Regions from separate parts of the Homo sapiens genome. Here region 1 is linked to region 2. The links come from fine-mapping of genetic effects on gene expression. Tissue or cell type: whole blood. Region 2 holds a variant in brackets; the other region holds the start of a gene. All regions are shown on one strand. Distances are from middle to middle.

Region 1 (8,104 bases), 160 kb before region 2:
TCACACTAAAAATACAAAAAATTGCTGGGCATGGTGGTGCGTGCCTGTAATCACAGCTACTAGGGAAGCTGAGGCAAGAGAATCACTTGAACCTGGGAGGCAGAGGTTGCAGTGAGCCGAGACTGCAACACTGCACTCCAGCCTGGGCGACAGAAAAAAAAATTAAGTTATGTATTCCTCATAATGATCATGTGAGGAAGATACTATCATTATCCTTGTTTTACAGATGAAGAAAATGAGGCACAGAAGAATTAAGTGGTTTGACCAACATTGCCTAACTCAGGACATACATCATATCACCTCTTTGCTTAAAACAGTCCATTAGTTCCCCACCTCAATCAGAGGATAGCCACAGTCTTACCAGAGGTCTAAAAGGCTACATGTGATCTGTACTCTCTCTCACTCCAGGGAGTCTCACTCTGTCGCCCAGGCTGGAGTGCAGTGGTGCTTTCTCAGCTCGCTGCAACCTCCATCTCCCCGGTTCAAACGATTCTCCTGCCTCAGCCTTCTTAGTAGCTGGGATTACAGACATGTGCCAGTGCGCCTGCCTAATTTTTGTATTTTTAGTGGAGACAGGGTTTCACCATGTTGGTCAGGCTGGTCTGGAACTCCTGACCTCAGGTGATCCACCCACCTCGGCTTCCCAAAGTGCTGGGATTACAGTCCTGAGCCACCGTGCCTGAGCCACTGAGTCTAATTTTTTGTCTTTTTAATAGAGATGGGGTTTCACCATGCTGGCCAGGCTGGTCTGAAACTCGTGACCTCAAATAGTCTGCCTGCCTCCCCCTCCCAAAGTGCTGGGATTACAGGTGCGAGCCACCGTGCCCAACTCTTCCCTACTTTATTTTCATATACATGTATTATTGTTATTTTGGTCTATTTCTCCCCAAACAAATTAAGGTCCACCAGGAGGGCAGGCCTTCATTTGTGAAACAATTATTTAAAGAGGCCTATAATATAAGGCATTGTTTTGGGCACTGAGCGGGGAAGAAAAGCTTGGTGGAGGTTGGGTGCAGTGGCTCATGCCTGTAATTCCAGCACTTTGGGAGCCCAAGGTGGGTGGATCACCTAAGGTCAAGAGTTCGAGACCAGGCTGGCCAACATGGTAAAACCCTGTCTCTACTAAAAGTACAAAAATTAGCCAGGCGTGGTGGCGCATGCCTGTAGTCCCAGATCTTGGGAGGCTGACGCAGGAGATCTGCTTGAACCCAGGAGGCGTAGGTTGCAGTGCGCCCAGATTGTACCACTGCACTCCAGCCTGGGCAACAGAGCAAGACTTCGTCTCGAAAAAATAAAATAGGCCAGGCGCAGGGGCTCACACCTGTAATCCCAGCACTTTGGGAGGCCGAGGCGGGCAAATCACGAGGTCAGGAATTCGAGATCAGCCTGGCCAATATGGTGAAACTCCATCTCTACTAAAAATATAAAAATAAGCTGGGCGTGGTGGTGTACGCCTGTAGTCCCAGCTACTTGGGAGACTGAGGCAGATGAATCGCTTGAACCTGGGAGGCAGAGGTGAAGTGAACCGAGATCGCACCACTGCACTCAAGCCTGGTGATAGAGTGAGACTCCATGTTAAAAAAAAAAAAAAAGAAATCAACCAGTAAGGCCAGGCACGGTGGCTCAAGCCTGTAATCCCAGCACTTTGGGAGGGTGAGGCGGGCAGATTACCTGAGGTCAGGAGTTTGAGACCAGCCTGACCAACATGGTGAAACCCTGTCTCTACTAAAAATAACAAAAATTAGCCGGGCATAGTGGCGGGCGCCTGTAATCCCAGCTACTTGGGAGGGTGAGGCAGGAGAATTGCTTGAACCCAGAAGTCAGAGGTTGTAGTGAGCCAAGATCACACCACCACACTCCAGCCTGGGCGACAGAGGGAGACTCTGTCTCAAAAAAAAATTAGCCCGGTATGGTGGCACACACCTGTAGTCCCAACTACTTGGGGGCCTGAGGCACAAAAGTCGCTTGAACCTGGGAGGCGGATGCTGTAGTGAGCCGAGATCATGCCACTGCACTGCAGTCTGGGCGACAAAGTGAGACTTCATCTCAAAAAATAATAAAATAATATAAAAAATAAATAAAATAAAATATATGTACATATACAAAACTCCATTTAATAATGGGCAAGCTACTGAGGAGGATGAAAGATAAAATCATTGTTGTTTAATTAAATGTAACACACAAAGAAATATCAAATTTGGCCGGGCGCGGTGGCTCATGCCTGTAATCCCAGCACTCTGGGAGGCCGAGGCGGGCGGATCACTAGCTCAGGAGATCGAGACCATCCTGGCTAACATGGTGAAACCCCGTCTCTACTAAAAATACAAAAAAAAAAAATTAGCCGGGCGTGGTGGCGGGCGCCTGTAGTCCCAGCTACTCGGAAGACTGAGGCAGGAGAATGGCGTGAACCCGGGAGGCAGAGCTTGCAGTGAGCCGATATCACGCCACTGCACTCCAGCCTGGGTGACAGAGTAAGATTCCGTCTCAAAAGAAAAAAATAAATATCAAAAGTGACAGGGAGAGCCTAAAAAGAGAGCAGCTTTTGGTCCACTTAATAGTTTGGATGAGGACACTTTTAAATGGATTCTGCCTGGTACTGTAAATGCCCAAGAACAAAGCATTGACTTTTGGGCAGAGTTCTAGCAAATCAGCAACTGTGGAGTGTCAGATTCGCAATGACTGCTCTTGTGTAATACGTCAAAAACAAGTCAGTGAGCTGAAATGCAGTACCTTTACTATTTTTAAGTTGACGTTAAAGGATGTGGGAAAAAAATAGACCAATGGGTACCCATCAAGAATAATTTGAATAAACAATCGAATATCATTTTAAACTATGGTAGTGGTCAGTTTCAAGAGCTGAATGTGATTTCATATTATCGTATCCTTTTTTCAACTTTCTCTTCGGAAATTTTGTGTATGCTCTTGATTTTTTTTAAATAGGTAAGTGTATGTTCTTGCGTTAATTTGTTTCAATTACATACATTAAATTGCTCAAACACTGCTGCGTGCACTGTTTTTACCTGATAGTGGTTTTCCTTTGGATGACAGAAAACGTTAATGCTTGGTAGGTTTAAAACATTTTTAAAAAATGAGCTCTTCCTTATTTACAAGAATCACCCACCCAATTAATAAATGCTTATTTCTGGGTTCCACTCTCAGAGATTTTTATGTTTATGTATATTTTTATATTTTTTAGTGTTTTATTTTATATGTTATATTTTTATATGTTTTATGTTCATATATATTTTTACGTTAAAAAAACATATATTTTTATGTTTTTTAATCTTTGGAGTTGGAAACCTACGTTTTCAGCCAGTACCCAAAGTGATTGTGAGGCCTGGTGGCCCAAAGACCATACCTTGAGAACGACTCGACCCAATGCTATTTTCATGTTTTGCAGCTTTCAAAATATTAACTTCAGAAATCTAAGGAGGGTGGGCAACTCGGGTGGCTGTCAGAAGACCCGAGAGTGAGCCGCTCACGCTGCGCCCCATTGCACAACTTTCCTTGACTTTGCAGATCTCTCCCTGAGGAGGAAATCAGTTCATTTTCACCGAGCAATTAACTACCTCCCAACCAGTTTCGTCTATGTCCCTCAGGATGACCCCCAAAAGTCACCAGCTCATCGCCGCTGCGAAAGATAAAGCACTGTTTGCCCTGCGTGCCCTCGCAAGGCCGCGGGAACCTGGGCTCGCTTCCCGCCACCCGGGCTCCTCCTCCTCTCGCCCTCTCCGGTCGGGTCCTCCGGGAGGCGCCCCGCGCGGCAGGTATTGGCGCCAACCGGGTGGCGGCGCTGTCCGCCCTGCGCGCGGCCGCCTCGGGCCCGAGGGAGGCGGATGCACGGCCGGCGGAGGAAGGGGAGGGAGCGAGGAGCGCGCGCTGCTCTCGCGTGCTCTCGCGCCGCTCGCGTGACCGGCCGGTGTGTGCGCGAGGCCCCGGCTCCCGGGGCACGGACGGCCGGGCGCGCGCCTCTGCGAGGGGCGTCCGGGTCCGAGTCGGCGGTCCGGGCCGGCGCGAGGTGCGTGCGGGCGGGCCGCGGGGGTCCCGGACGGACACAAGCGCACACACTCCCGGAGGAGCCTTCGAGGCTGCTCTTCCTCGGCCAGACGGAGAGCGGCACTGTCTCCCCGCCCAGCGCTCACTCGCCCCGCGTCTCCCCCCGCGGCGGCTGCTCCTCCTCGGCACCGCCAGCCCCAGCGCCGCTCCCGGGCGGGCGGGCGGCGGCGGCGGCGGCGGCGGGACCCGCGGAGCCGCTTTGTGTGCAGCCCGACTAGGGGCGGCGGCGCAACCACCTGACAGAGGCCCGGGCGCTCGATGCACCTTCCGCCCGCATGAGGAGGAGGTAAAGGCGGCGGCGGCTCGGCTCCCGCCCTAGGCTGCTGGAGGGAGGGGACGGAAGGGGAGACTGGAGGGGGGGGCCGCGGGTCCGAGGCCCGGTGGGGCCGCCCGAGGGTGCCGGGAAGGCCTCGGCGGTGCCGGAGGCGCCAAGCGGCCGGGGGCCAGAGAAGCAGCTGGGGTCCCTCAGCCGAAGTTGAAGGAACAAAATGTGAAGTGCGGAGGCGCGTCAGCCGCTTCCTGGCGTGGGGCTGAGGGTGGAGGGCGGCTTGTTTTCCCCTCCCGCGGGGGTGAGGGAGCGGAACAGGGGAGGGGTGGCAGCGCGGCGGGGACTACCCCGGGTCCGAGGCTCGGCTGGGCAAGGGCGTTTTGTTCCCGGCAGCCGCCGCTGCGCGTGGGTCCGCTGGGTCCCTAGTTTTGCGGCCTAAGCCGAGCCCTATAGGCCTCGGGTCTGGTTTCCCGGAGGGGACTGGCCGGGCGGGACTGGGTGCTTCCCCACCGCCGAGCGGGGGCCTTGGGGTCCTTGCCGGCCTCCCGGGGCCGCCAAACTTCGGACCCTGGTGCTCGGGGGTGGATTTCATTGTGAAAGGCGGAATGGGAAACTCCTGGCGCTGTTCGGCGGCCACGGCGGCTGGTGCGGAGGAGCCCCGTGAGCCTGGGGCTGGCAGGGCCGGGTTGGCGGGGCCGGCGGGGTTCGATCCCTGGGAAAGAGCGGGTGGCGAGGCCGCTGCCGGGTCCCCGGCCTCTGGGGAGACAGGGCCTTTTCCAGATTAGAGAGATTTGAAATGAAAAAAGAGGTTACAAAGTCGCCCCTTTCCCGCTGAACTTTGGTTTTCTGACCGATAGAGGCCGGTAGAGGACTGTGAACCAAAAGTTGTCCCCCAGGATGGACTTCACCGCGCAGCCCAAGCCTGCCACTGCCCTCTGTGGCGTCGTGAGTGCCGACGGGAAGATCGCTTACCCTCCGGGGGTAAAAGAGATCACCGACAAGATCACCACGGACGAGATGATCAAACGCCTGAAGGTAAGTGTCTGGACGGATTTTGATGTCTTTGGTAGAAGGCGCTTTCTCCTGTGATACTGCTACCCTGCTCAGTCTGGCCTTTAAAGTTCCAAGTTTTTTAGATCTCTTACCCCCTCTGAAAGGTACTGTTGTATCTCAGATAACATCTTTGAGTGAGTTTTGTAGGGATATAACCATTGTGGGAAATTTAAAAGGAGTGTGATTTTTCAAAAACTTACTGGTTTTCAAGCATAAGAATTTGTGTTTTTAGAGTTTTTTCTGGAGGTATTTAATGAGAATACTGTTCAGAGTGGCTTGCAAACTTAGGTGTAGGCAGTAATTTGCCTAAGAAGTTTACTATTTTCAGCTTCTGAAGGGGATTGATTAAAGCGCAAAGTCCTTTTTAAAAATTTGCATAATTTTCTATATCCAGAAGCTTAAATATGTATATATGGTGGTTAAACTTTGACAGAAGGTACAGACTTTTCATAATTCAGGCTTAAAGTAAGATGATTTAAGTCTATACGTTCAAAGGAGTTTAAGAGTATTATGGCCCTTTTTATGAGGTGTCAGCTAATTTTGTTTAAGCATGGCAGTCCTAAGGTTAAGGTTTTAAATTTCAACCTCATGTTTGTTAGTTTTTTTGGTTTCTGTTCCACTGACATAGATTGTGGCCAGAATCTTAACAAATAAGTAATATTCTTCTTGTAGGAACAGCTTGAAGCAGTGGTTCTGAGTCAGGGCAACTTTGACCTCCAGGAGATGTTTGGCAATGCTGGAGACATTTTGGTTGTCACAATTGGTGCTAGATTGGAGTAGGGGAAGACCAGAGGCAGTGAGTCCGGCTAGGAAACTGTAAACAGTAGTCTAGGTGAAAGACGTTGAAATCTTCAGGTAGGGCTATGGCATTGGTAATAGTGACTAGGAAATGATTTAACAACTTTTCAGAGTTAGAATCAATCAGAATTGGTGGGAGGTGAGGGAAGCAACATTGTTGACAATGTTTCCACCTTGGGCCACTTGGCCAAATGTATTTTAGGGAATGAGCTTGGCCTCTTGCTCTTGGAGCCCAGTAAATGTACCTAATGTTGCATTTTAATGAGTACAGTATTTAAAATATTCCTGTGGTTTAGTTTTCAGACTCTTAATTTGGTTCTGCAATTTGTTGCCTTTTTGGAAGGAATAAGACAACAGTTCCTTTCATTAAAACAAATCTGTGTGCGGCGGCGGGATCTCAGCTCACTGCAACCTCCACTTCCCAGGTTCAAGCTATTCTGCCTCAGCCTCCCAAGTAGCTGGGACTACCAGCGTGTGCCACCACACCCGGCTAAATTTTTTTTTTTTTTTTTTTTTTGAGACGGAGTCTTGCTCTGTCACCTAGGCTGGAGTGCAGTGGCGCGTCTCGGCCCACTGCAACCTCCACCTCCCGGGTTCAAGCAATTCTGCCTCAGCCTCTCTAGTAGCTGGGATTACAGGTGCCTGCCACCACGCCCAGCTAATTTTTGTATTTTTAGTAGAGATGGGATTTCACTATGTTGGTCACTTTGGTCTCGATCTCCTGACTTCGAATGATCTGCCTGCATCGGCCTCCCAATATGCTGCGATTACAGGTGTGAGCCACTGCTCCCAGCCCCTTTCATTAAAACAAATCTTGGGCCTGGTGTGGTGGCTCCAGCCTGTAATCCCAGCACTTCGGGAGGCCGAGGCAGGCAAATCACCCGAGGTCTGGAGTTCTACTAAAAATACAAAATTAGCTGGGCGTGGTGGCGCATACCTGTAATCCTAGCTACTGGGAGGCTGAGGCAGGAGAATCGCTTGAACCCGGGAGGCGGAAGTTTTGATGAGCGGAGATCGCGCCATTGCACTCCAGCCTGGGCAACAGGAGTGAAACTTCATCTCAAAAAAGTAAAATAAAATAAATAAAGCAAATATTGATACTAAAGATTATACATGAATTGAGCTGCTTGATTGATGCTTCTAAAAGTTACACTGTTTTGGGAGTGAGAAATTATGAAATATAAAACTTAAACAATTGATGGATCGTTAATATTTATTGTTTTCAAATTAAGAATATTGAAACCTTGAATTCTAATGTTGGATAATTTGGTTAAAAAATGGAAAGTTGATGTGTTAGCAACCGCTCTGTTGACATGACTCATGGAACCTGTGAAGAAGCTGGTCTCATAGTATTAAGTGGTGGTATAGGAGCAGCTTGGGGATAGCACCTGGCATATTGGAATGGATGAGGTCTGGCACCCTGAGCAGTCCAGCGAGGACTTGGTCTCAGTAGAGCAGTTTGGCTAGGAGGAGAGTATGCAGCACGGTTTTTATTTATTTTTGAGACAGAGTCTCGCTCTGTCGCCCAGGCTGGAGTGGGTGCGATCTCGGCTCACTGTAAGCTCCGCCTCCCGGGTTCACGCCATTCTCCTGCCTCAGCCTCCCGAGTAGCTGGGACCACGGGCGCCCGCCATCATGCCCGGCTAATTTTTTGTATTTTTTTAGTAGAGACGGGTTTCACCGTGTTAGCCAGGATGGTCTCGATCTCCTGACCTCGTGATCTGCCCCTCTTGGCCTCCCAAAGTGCTGGGATTACAGGCGTGAGCCACCGCGCCCGGTCTTGCAGCACGGTTCTGAGTCTGTGGAATAGCTGCCATGAAGTAACCTGAAGGAGGTGCTGGCTGGTAGGGGTTGATTACATGGTTGGGCACAGCTCGTACACTTGCCATTCTCTGCATATGCTGGTTAGTGAAGTGAGCCTGGCACTCT
Region 2 (8,104 bases):
AAGAGGAGTAGGTGAGAGGAGGTGAGAAAGAGGCCATGTCCCACTCTCCTGTGCTTCCAGGGATCAGAATTTCCCTCCCTATTAGGGAAATGCGTTTAAAAAAAAAAAAAAAACACGCCAGTTTGGTTGGGATGTTTTTAGTATGCTAAAACGTTTATGTTTACCCAGCTCATGAGTCAGAAGTTATTTTGCTGCTTATAAATTCATTTTGCCATAGTATGATAAATAGCTTTTAATGTTGTAAGCAAATAGGGCATTGGATAGCAGCACTAAGTCATTGAAAACAAAAACTTCTTTATTGGTGTTTGGTTTTTATATAGTTTAGGGAAAGGCTCTTTAAACCAAGTTTCAGGTGAAAAAATGAAAAAACTTTTTAAGGATTTTAGATAACATGCCAAGCACAGTGACTCATGCCTGTAATCCCAGTAGTGAATCTGAGAAGCGCAGGCTTCCCAGATCGCTTGAGCTCAGGAGTTGAAGACCAGCCTGGGCAACATAATGAGATCCCGTCTGTACAAATAATTTAAAAATTAGCCAGCCATGGTGGTGTGCGCCTATAGTTCTAGCTATTTGGGAGGCTCAGGCTGGACGCTGAGCCTGGAGGACCACTTGAACCCAGGAGTTGGGGCTGAGTGAGCCATGATCGTGCCACTGTACTTCAGCCTGAGTGACAGAGTGAGATCCTGATGCTTAAGTTTAAAAAAAAAAAAAAAGATTTTAGATAACAACTATGGAAATGAAATCATTTTCGTTTGGTTTATATCTTCTCCACATCTTTTCTAACTTTGCGTTCTATTCTTAACCCTAAGGTAAAAATGCATTTGCAAAGGGAGAAAATGAAGGCCAAACAGAAGCAGGCTCCAGCTTCTGCAAAAACTTGGATTCACAAATGTCCCTGAACAGAAAATGAAGCTCACTTCAGAACACACACTCTCTGCCTTGAAAACTAAAGAGACTATTACTTCCTTTTCACATGACCACAAGTCCTCTGATGGAAATGTACAGCAGAAACTCTTGAGAGAGAGGCTAAAAGCAACTCTGTTCTCCCCCTTCCCCTAGACTTTTCTTACGAAAAGTCAATAATTAAGCAAATTGCTTAACACTTGGTTCCAGTTCCTGCCTATCTGGAGTTTAAATGCGTAATACACCATTAATTTCCACGCTGCAGTTTTTATTTTAAAGAAAGTAACAAGATGTCTTTACACTGACACTGAAAATTCATCCATTTTAGAGCCAGGAATTCCCATGTTACACAGGAAAAAATAGAAGTCTACTGAATTAATTTTTTAAAAGAAAAGAGATCAGATTAAATATTTCTTTGTTTTTCCTTTTGGAAACTTTTATGTATAATTCTTTCTGCCTGCCTACTTTTCTGCAAAAATGAGATGTACAGATTTCGGTTCCCTGCTATGAAAAGTGATGTGGTAGCAATTTTATAAATGTTGCTTTCTGATTTTTATCAGAGTGAGAAAATTAAAATTATTGATTTGCAAGTAGTAAACAGTTCATATTTTGATTTCCCCTCATTTTAGTTTAATATAATTTGCAATAAATGTACATATTGTTGTTTGTTTCATAAAGCATATCACTTTAAAATGGTTTTTACTCCTGTGATTATGTTGGAATATTTGGAATTTTAAAGGAGTAAAGACTGTCCAGCATTTGGTTTTATAATGTTTGTCACCAGATTTTTATTAATGTAAAAAAAATCAATTTTTAAAAAATAGTTGGACTTTGGCAGCTTTTAAGGAAAGTTGGAGGTGTTTTAGGATTGCTATCAATTTTCAGCATTGTGCTATTTGGAAATAAGTGTTTTGCTTTTGTCTGATGGTCTGGGCTCATTTTTATGTTTATTTTAGAAAACTGTTGCATCAATATATTATGTTTCTTGGCATTGTTCAGCATAGGTAATGTGTGCACTTTATGTGTACACATAATCATATTTAAGTTTTTTGCATAAAATAAATGCTTCTAGATGTCATGGCAGTCTTTTTAATCTTTTTATCATATGCTTTCTTGTGAATTTTTTCATGTTAAAGAGCTAAAGTCATAACATGATTACAGTCAACTCTCCATTATCTATATAAAATAGTGACTAAGCCTCAGGTTTTTAATTTTGTGATAACAAAATAACGAAGGCATGTAAGACCTGATTCTGGAGGAACATGAAATTTGTCTTTTCTCATGTCCAGAGTTCTATCCTGCCCCCACTGTCCACTGTAGGGTCATCCGCAAAGCCCTAGCAGAATGTGCTCACTCCATTTCCTTACACGTTTCTAGCATGGGTCAGAGGAAACAACATTTGTGTTATAACTTCGTCTTGATAGGCTGTAGTGTACATGGGATGTAAAACAAACAAGTGTATCAAAGGTGGATGATTCTGTTAGAGTGAAGTTTGAGAGTAAATGTCACTTACGTTTCTCATAGATAATCAAGAGTTGGCTGTGTATTGACTGAAAGATGGGTAATTATTTTAAATATGCATTTACACACATTTAGGTATCAGAAGATGCTTAGGGAACAATGGATACCAATGATAGAAAATGATACCTTTACAGGGGCAGAAAAATCCCCACTCTTCCTTATTGCCTCTTCAGAACCCTTTAGAAAGTATAAAATATTGCCTCCAACATGCTGAAAAAGAGTATCTATGCATAAGTATCAGAGAAGTCCCTCAAGCAATCAGTAGGTGTGTTCTATTTAGAGAGAGTTTAAAGTTCTCTTAGCATCAGACAACTTGATTCCTAAGGTTTCCAGTGTGTCACCAACAAAAAGTGCATTGATAGGGACCTTTGTCTCTTCCTCCCTTTGATTAATTGCCCGGCATCACAGTTTACTAGATTACCAAGTGTTACATCATATTAAATAAAATGTAGCAGAACCATCTGCATCAATATATTCCTGTTTAGATTTTTGCAGGAGAGAAGTTAAAAGGATTTGCTCCTTGTATGATGTAAGTGGCCCACCCCAATTTTGTAACATGATGCAAGTGTCTGGCACTAAGGGAAGCAAGAGTAGGGTTGTGGAAAGACCAAGCTGATGGGGAGGGACTTGTTTACGGGAATTTTTTTAGTTTTCCTTTTCAAAGGAAAACATTAAAATCCCTTAGGAATTTGGTATTCACATCTCAGAGAACTACAACACAAAAGTGCAGACTTATATTTGAGAATTAATGTTAACCCTTTGTGTCTAGTTTGAAGCTTCTTGTATTTGTCTAAAACAACAAGCCAGAATTTTGTATCTCCTTTGATAAAAAGTGT[G/A]TATAATGTAAAGTAGTTTTGCATATTCTTGTGCTGCACATGGGCTGAATTTTTAAATTTTTTTTAAAAACTTGAAGCAGAACCTTGTAATTTGTGTAAATGACAAGTGTAAAATCCTACCATAAAATGCTAAAAATATGCACTGTTTCAAATAAAACCAAGAAATGCAGCATTATATAGTAGTGTGGAGCCCTGAATATTCATGTACCCCTGGTATGTCACAAGTTGATAAAATGTCTCTGCATATTTTCTGTTGAGATGCTGGAGTCTGAATATCCTAATTAGAAATCAAAAGCCACCTTCAAACTTCCTGGCTGGGTACTCTGAGGTAGCTTACAGTGGCTAAGGAAGAACATAGTGGATGATAAATTCTGAGGCACATTCGGAATTTCCAAACGAGGTTTGTTTTAGGGGGTGGCTTTTTTTTTGAAATGAGATCTTACCCTGTTGCCCAGGCTGGAGTGCAATGACATGATCATGGCTCACTGTAGCAATCCTCCTGCCCCAGGCTCCTAGAAAAGTGCTGGGATTACAGGCCTGAGCCACCAGACCTGGCCAAGAAGTTATTTTTTTAACCTAAGAATTTAATAGCAGCCTTTGATTCATATTAGTCTATGGTTCATCCATTCATTGCAAGTTCTGCACTCACATATTTAGTTCCATAACAAATTCAAGAGAGCAAGCAGATTACATAAATGTATCTGGAGTAAGAGGTGACCAGAACGAGAGGTAAGAAAGTCTATCATGGCTGGGCGCAGTGAGTCACACCTTTAATCCCAGCACTTTGGGAGGGTGGCCGAGGCAGGTAGGTCACTTGACCTAAAGAGTTCAAGACTGGCCTGGGCAACATGGTGAACCCTGTCTCTACCGAAAATACAAAAATCAGCCGAGTGTGGTGGTGCACACCTGTAGTCCCAGTTACTCAGGAGACTGAGGTGGGAGAATCCGTTGAGCCTGGGAGTCGTCGGTTGCAGTGAGCCAAGATCACACCACTGCACTCTAGCCTGGGCAACAGAGCAAAACTGTTTCAAAAATAAATAGGCCAGGCGTGGTGGCTCATGGCTGTAATCCCAGCACTTTGGGAGGCTGAGGCAGGTGGATCACCTGAGGTCAGGAGTTCGAGACCAGCCTGACCAACATGGAGAAATCCCGTCTTGAATAAAAATACAAAAAAATTAGCCAGACTTGGTGGCGCATGCCTGTAATCCCAGCTACGTGGGAGGCTGAGGCAGGAGAATCACTTGAACCTGGGAAGCGGAGGTTGTGGTGAGCCGAGATTGCGCCATTGCACTCCAGCCTGGGCAATAAGAATGAAACTGTCTCAAAAATAATAGGCTGGGCACGGTGGCTCACACCTGTGATCCCAGCACTTTGGGAGGCTGAGGCAGGCAGATCACCTGAGGTCAGGAGTTTGAGACCAGCCTCGTCAACATAGTGAAACCCTGTCTCTACTAAAGATAAAAAAAATTAGCCAGGCATACTGGCGCACGCCTGTAGTCCCAGCTTCGCGGGAGACTGAGGCAGGAGAATCGCTTGAACCAGGGAGGCGGAGGTTGCAGTGAGCCAAGATTGTGCCACTACACTCCAGCCTGGGCAACAGAGCGAGACTCCGTCTCAAAATAAGTAAATAAAGGCCTGAAACGTACATTTTGCACCACTGCACTCCAGCCTGAGTGACAGGCTGAGACCCTGTCTCAAAAAAAAAAGGAAAAGCTATCATGCCTAGTTTTGTATTTTACCCATAATGGGTTGACCTTCCACCCCCAATACTTGCACTGACAAGACTTTTTTGTCTTTGCTACTCACATGAACTGTCCTGCTCTGACAAGCAGCTTTGTAGCCTGCTTAGGTAACGGTGACAGCATTTCCTACAAGGAGTTCGCTATAAGCCAGCAAGGTAGGGAGGATGGAAATGAGAGTGCAGAATCAAGTGCCTTTCTGCTGTAAACCATACCTTCAACTTTTCATTCCCATGAGAGTAATAACCTTCATTTATTTCACTATTGTATCATAGTTCAAAGTCTTAGCAGGGCAACATACAACCCATCTCTACCAAAAAATTAAAAAAATAAGACAGGCATGGTGGTGCGTGCCTGTTTTCCCAGCTTCTCGGGAGGCTGAGGTGGGACGATTGCTTGAGTCCAGGAGGCAGAGGCTGCAGTAAACTGAGATCACACCACTGCATTCCAGCCTGGGTGACCAAGACCTTGTGTCAAAGAAAAAAAAGCCTAACGGGAACATATACAGGTCTCATTTCTAAGGAACCTGGGCCAGGCTGCTGATCAGTACTTCAGTTTTGGGGTGTTTCTCAAATGTTTCTTTATCAATACTGATTGCTAACTTATCTCCCCTCATTCTCTGGTTACTCCTGTTGTTCTTGAGCAAGGACCGTGTCATTCTGAATAAAACCTGTTATTTTTAGTAAATAGCACTACATCCATTCTTCCTGAAGAAGCTTGAATAGTGACATGGTTTGGCTCTTTGTCCTCACCCAAATCTCATCTCAAATTGCCATCCCCCACATGTCGAGGGAGGGACCTAGTGGGAGGTGATTGAATCTGGGGCGGTTTCCCCCATGCTGTTCTCTTGATAGTGGTTCTCATGAGATCTGATGGTTTAAAAGGTGTGGCCCTTCCTTGCTCTGGCTCTCCCCTGCTGCCGTATAAGAAGTGCCTTGCTTCCCTTTCCCCTTCCACCATGATTAAGTTTCCTGAGGCTTCCCCAGCCATCCGGAACTGAGTCAATTAAACCTTTCCTTTCTAAATTACCCAGTCTCAGGCAGGCTTTTGTTTTCTTTTGTTTTGTTTTGTTTTTTTGTTTTTGAGACGGAGTTTTGCTCTTGTTGCCCAGGCTGGAGTGCAATGGTGCGATCTCAGCTCACTGCAACCTCCGCCTCCTGGGTTCAAGCGATTCTCCTGCCTCAGTCTCCTGAGTAGTAGTATTTTTAGTAGAGACGGGGTTTCACCATATTGGTCATGCTGGTCTCGAACTCCTGACCTCAGGTGATCCACCCGCCTCAGCCTCCCAAAGTGCTGGGATTACAGCCATGAGCCACTGCACCCAGCTTCAGGGAGTTCTTTATAGCAGCATGAGAATGGACTAATACAAAAAAAACCACTAGAAGTCAGTAAGACATGTAAGGAGCCACCGTAGTGCTGATTCTGGATCTGCAAAAGCCAACTAGAAAATAGGGAGTCGCCATTTTTCATCATTTCAGGCATTTGTAATCTGTAGAGACTAGGCACGATGCCAGGAGCCGACATTAAAAACACCAGGATTGGTGCCTTACAAGGACTAGCAACATAACACAGGCAGCTGCGACTGTTCCAGGTGATACATTTTGTGTGGACTTCAGAACCCTGATGGATGCCGTAGAAGCAGAAAATCCTCACCTTTTCTACTGAAGTGCAATTCTGAGAACTGTTATGAGCATGTAGGTGTCTAAAGAAGTGACTGGGCCAGGCGCAGTGGCTCACGCCTGTAATCCCAGCACTTTAGGAGGTCGAGGTGGGCGGATCACCTAAGGTCAGGAGTTCAACACCAGCCTGACCAACATGGAGAAACCATCTCTACCAAAAATACAAAATTAGCCAGATGTGCTGGCACATGCCTGTAATCCCAGCTACTTGGGAGGCTGAGAGGAGAATCGCTTGAACCCGGGAGGCAGAGGTTGTGGTGAGTCAAGATCGCGCTCACCGCACTCCAGCCTGGGCAACAAGAGTAAAACTCCGTTTCAAAAAAAAAAAAAAAAAGAAGAAGTGACTGGCCTGAGCAAACTGCCCTACCTCAGGGCACAAGGAGCTGGGCCTGAAGCTGGAGGTGGCTCTCCAGGCTGAGGGCTGGGGAAAGACAAGAAGGCCACCACTTCAGCGAATCCCAACACTCCTTAAACCTCCCTGGGCCTTAAACTTCCCTGCTCTGGGGAAGAGCTGGTCCCAGCCCTGAAACCTCTCTATCCACTGTAGTCCTGAGGGACAGGGGACACGCCCCACTCAAAGCACAAATTCTGTGTGTCAGTAATTCCTGTGGCTCCTTTGGACAAATTTTGTGCCACCTTAGGAGCTTAGTGGACTTCTCCAAAGCAAGGCAGCCCGCGAAGCACCCATTTTTCAGAGCCTTTTTGAAGAGCTCCACCCTGGTGGCCCCCCAACCCCTACCCCAAGAAAACCCTGGCAGTTTAGCCTTCTGGATGCATCTGGCATGTCCCCTCCAAGAGGAAGGTCAACCGCAGGGACTGAAAGGAAGCTGTCCCTTTGCAACCCACCTCAGGCCAAAAGCTGAAAAGCAAAATACTGGTTACCCCAAAACTGCCTTACTTTTAGATGTAGGCCGGACCCAGGGACTAAGGGCTCTGCATTTTTTGACCATTTGGCAGCTCGGCTGCCCATGGAAGCTTATAATTACGAGCACAGGATCTGTCTTTTTAGAAGCCATGGCTCATTAGGGATATTAAAAGTAGACTGGTTCTCATTTTCTTTTTGTTTTTTTTGAGACAGAGTCTGGCTCTGTCGCCCAGGCTGGAGTGCAGTGGTGCAATCTCGGCTCACTGCAAGCTCCACCTCCCGGGTTTGCGCCATTCTCCTGCCTCAGGCTCCCGACTAGCTGGGACTACAGGCGCCCGCCACCACGCCCGGATAATTTTTGTATTTTTAGTAGAGATGGGGTTTCACCGTGTTAGCCAGGATGGTCTCGATCTCCTGACCTTGTGATCCACTCGCCTCATCCTCCCAAAGTGCTGGGATTACAGGCATGAGCCACCGCGCCCGGCCTCATTTTCTTCTCTCTACACATACACAGCTTGGAGGTTGTCTTAATGACAAGGCATCCACACAGCATGGTAGTCG

The links. PIP is the estimated chance that this variant, and not a neighbour inherited with it, causes the effect.
Region 1: it holds the start of PDS5A, and the variant in region 2 is fine-mapped to the expression of PDS5A in whole blood (INTERVAL, PIP 0.98).

The regions. Positions count from the first base shown.
Region 1 is chr4:39,973,695-39,981,798 of GRCh38, reverse strand. PDS5A (PDS5 cohesin associated factor A) reads left to right here and starts at 3,888. Exons shown (of 33, transcript NM_001100399.2): 1 at 3,888-4,342; 2 at 5,182-5,359. The coding sequence starts at 5,222. It also overlaps the pseudogene PABPC1P1. RefSeq lists silencers at 3,664-4,303, 4,354-5,103 and an enhancer at 4,641-5,549.
Region 2 is chr4:39,818,194-39,826,297 of GRCh38, reverse strand. It overlaps PDS5A (PDS5 cohesin associated factor A), which reads left to right. Exons shown (of 33, transcript NM_001100399.2): 33 at 810-3,435. The coding sequence ends at 813. Among named protein-coding and RNA genes, the nearest start is that of UBE2K, 120 kb to the right of the region's middle. RefSeq lists an enhancer at 5,562-6,099. The variant G/A (reference allele first, on the strand shown) is at 3,261.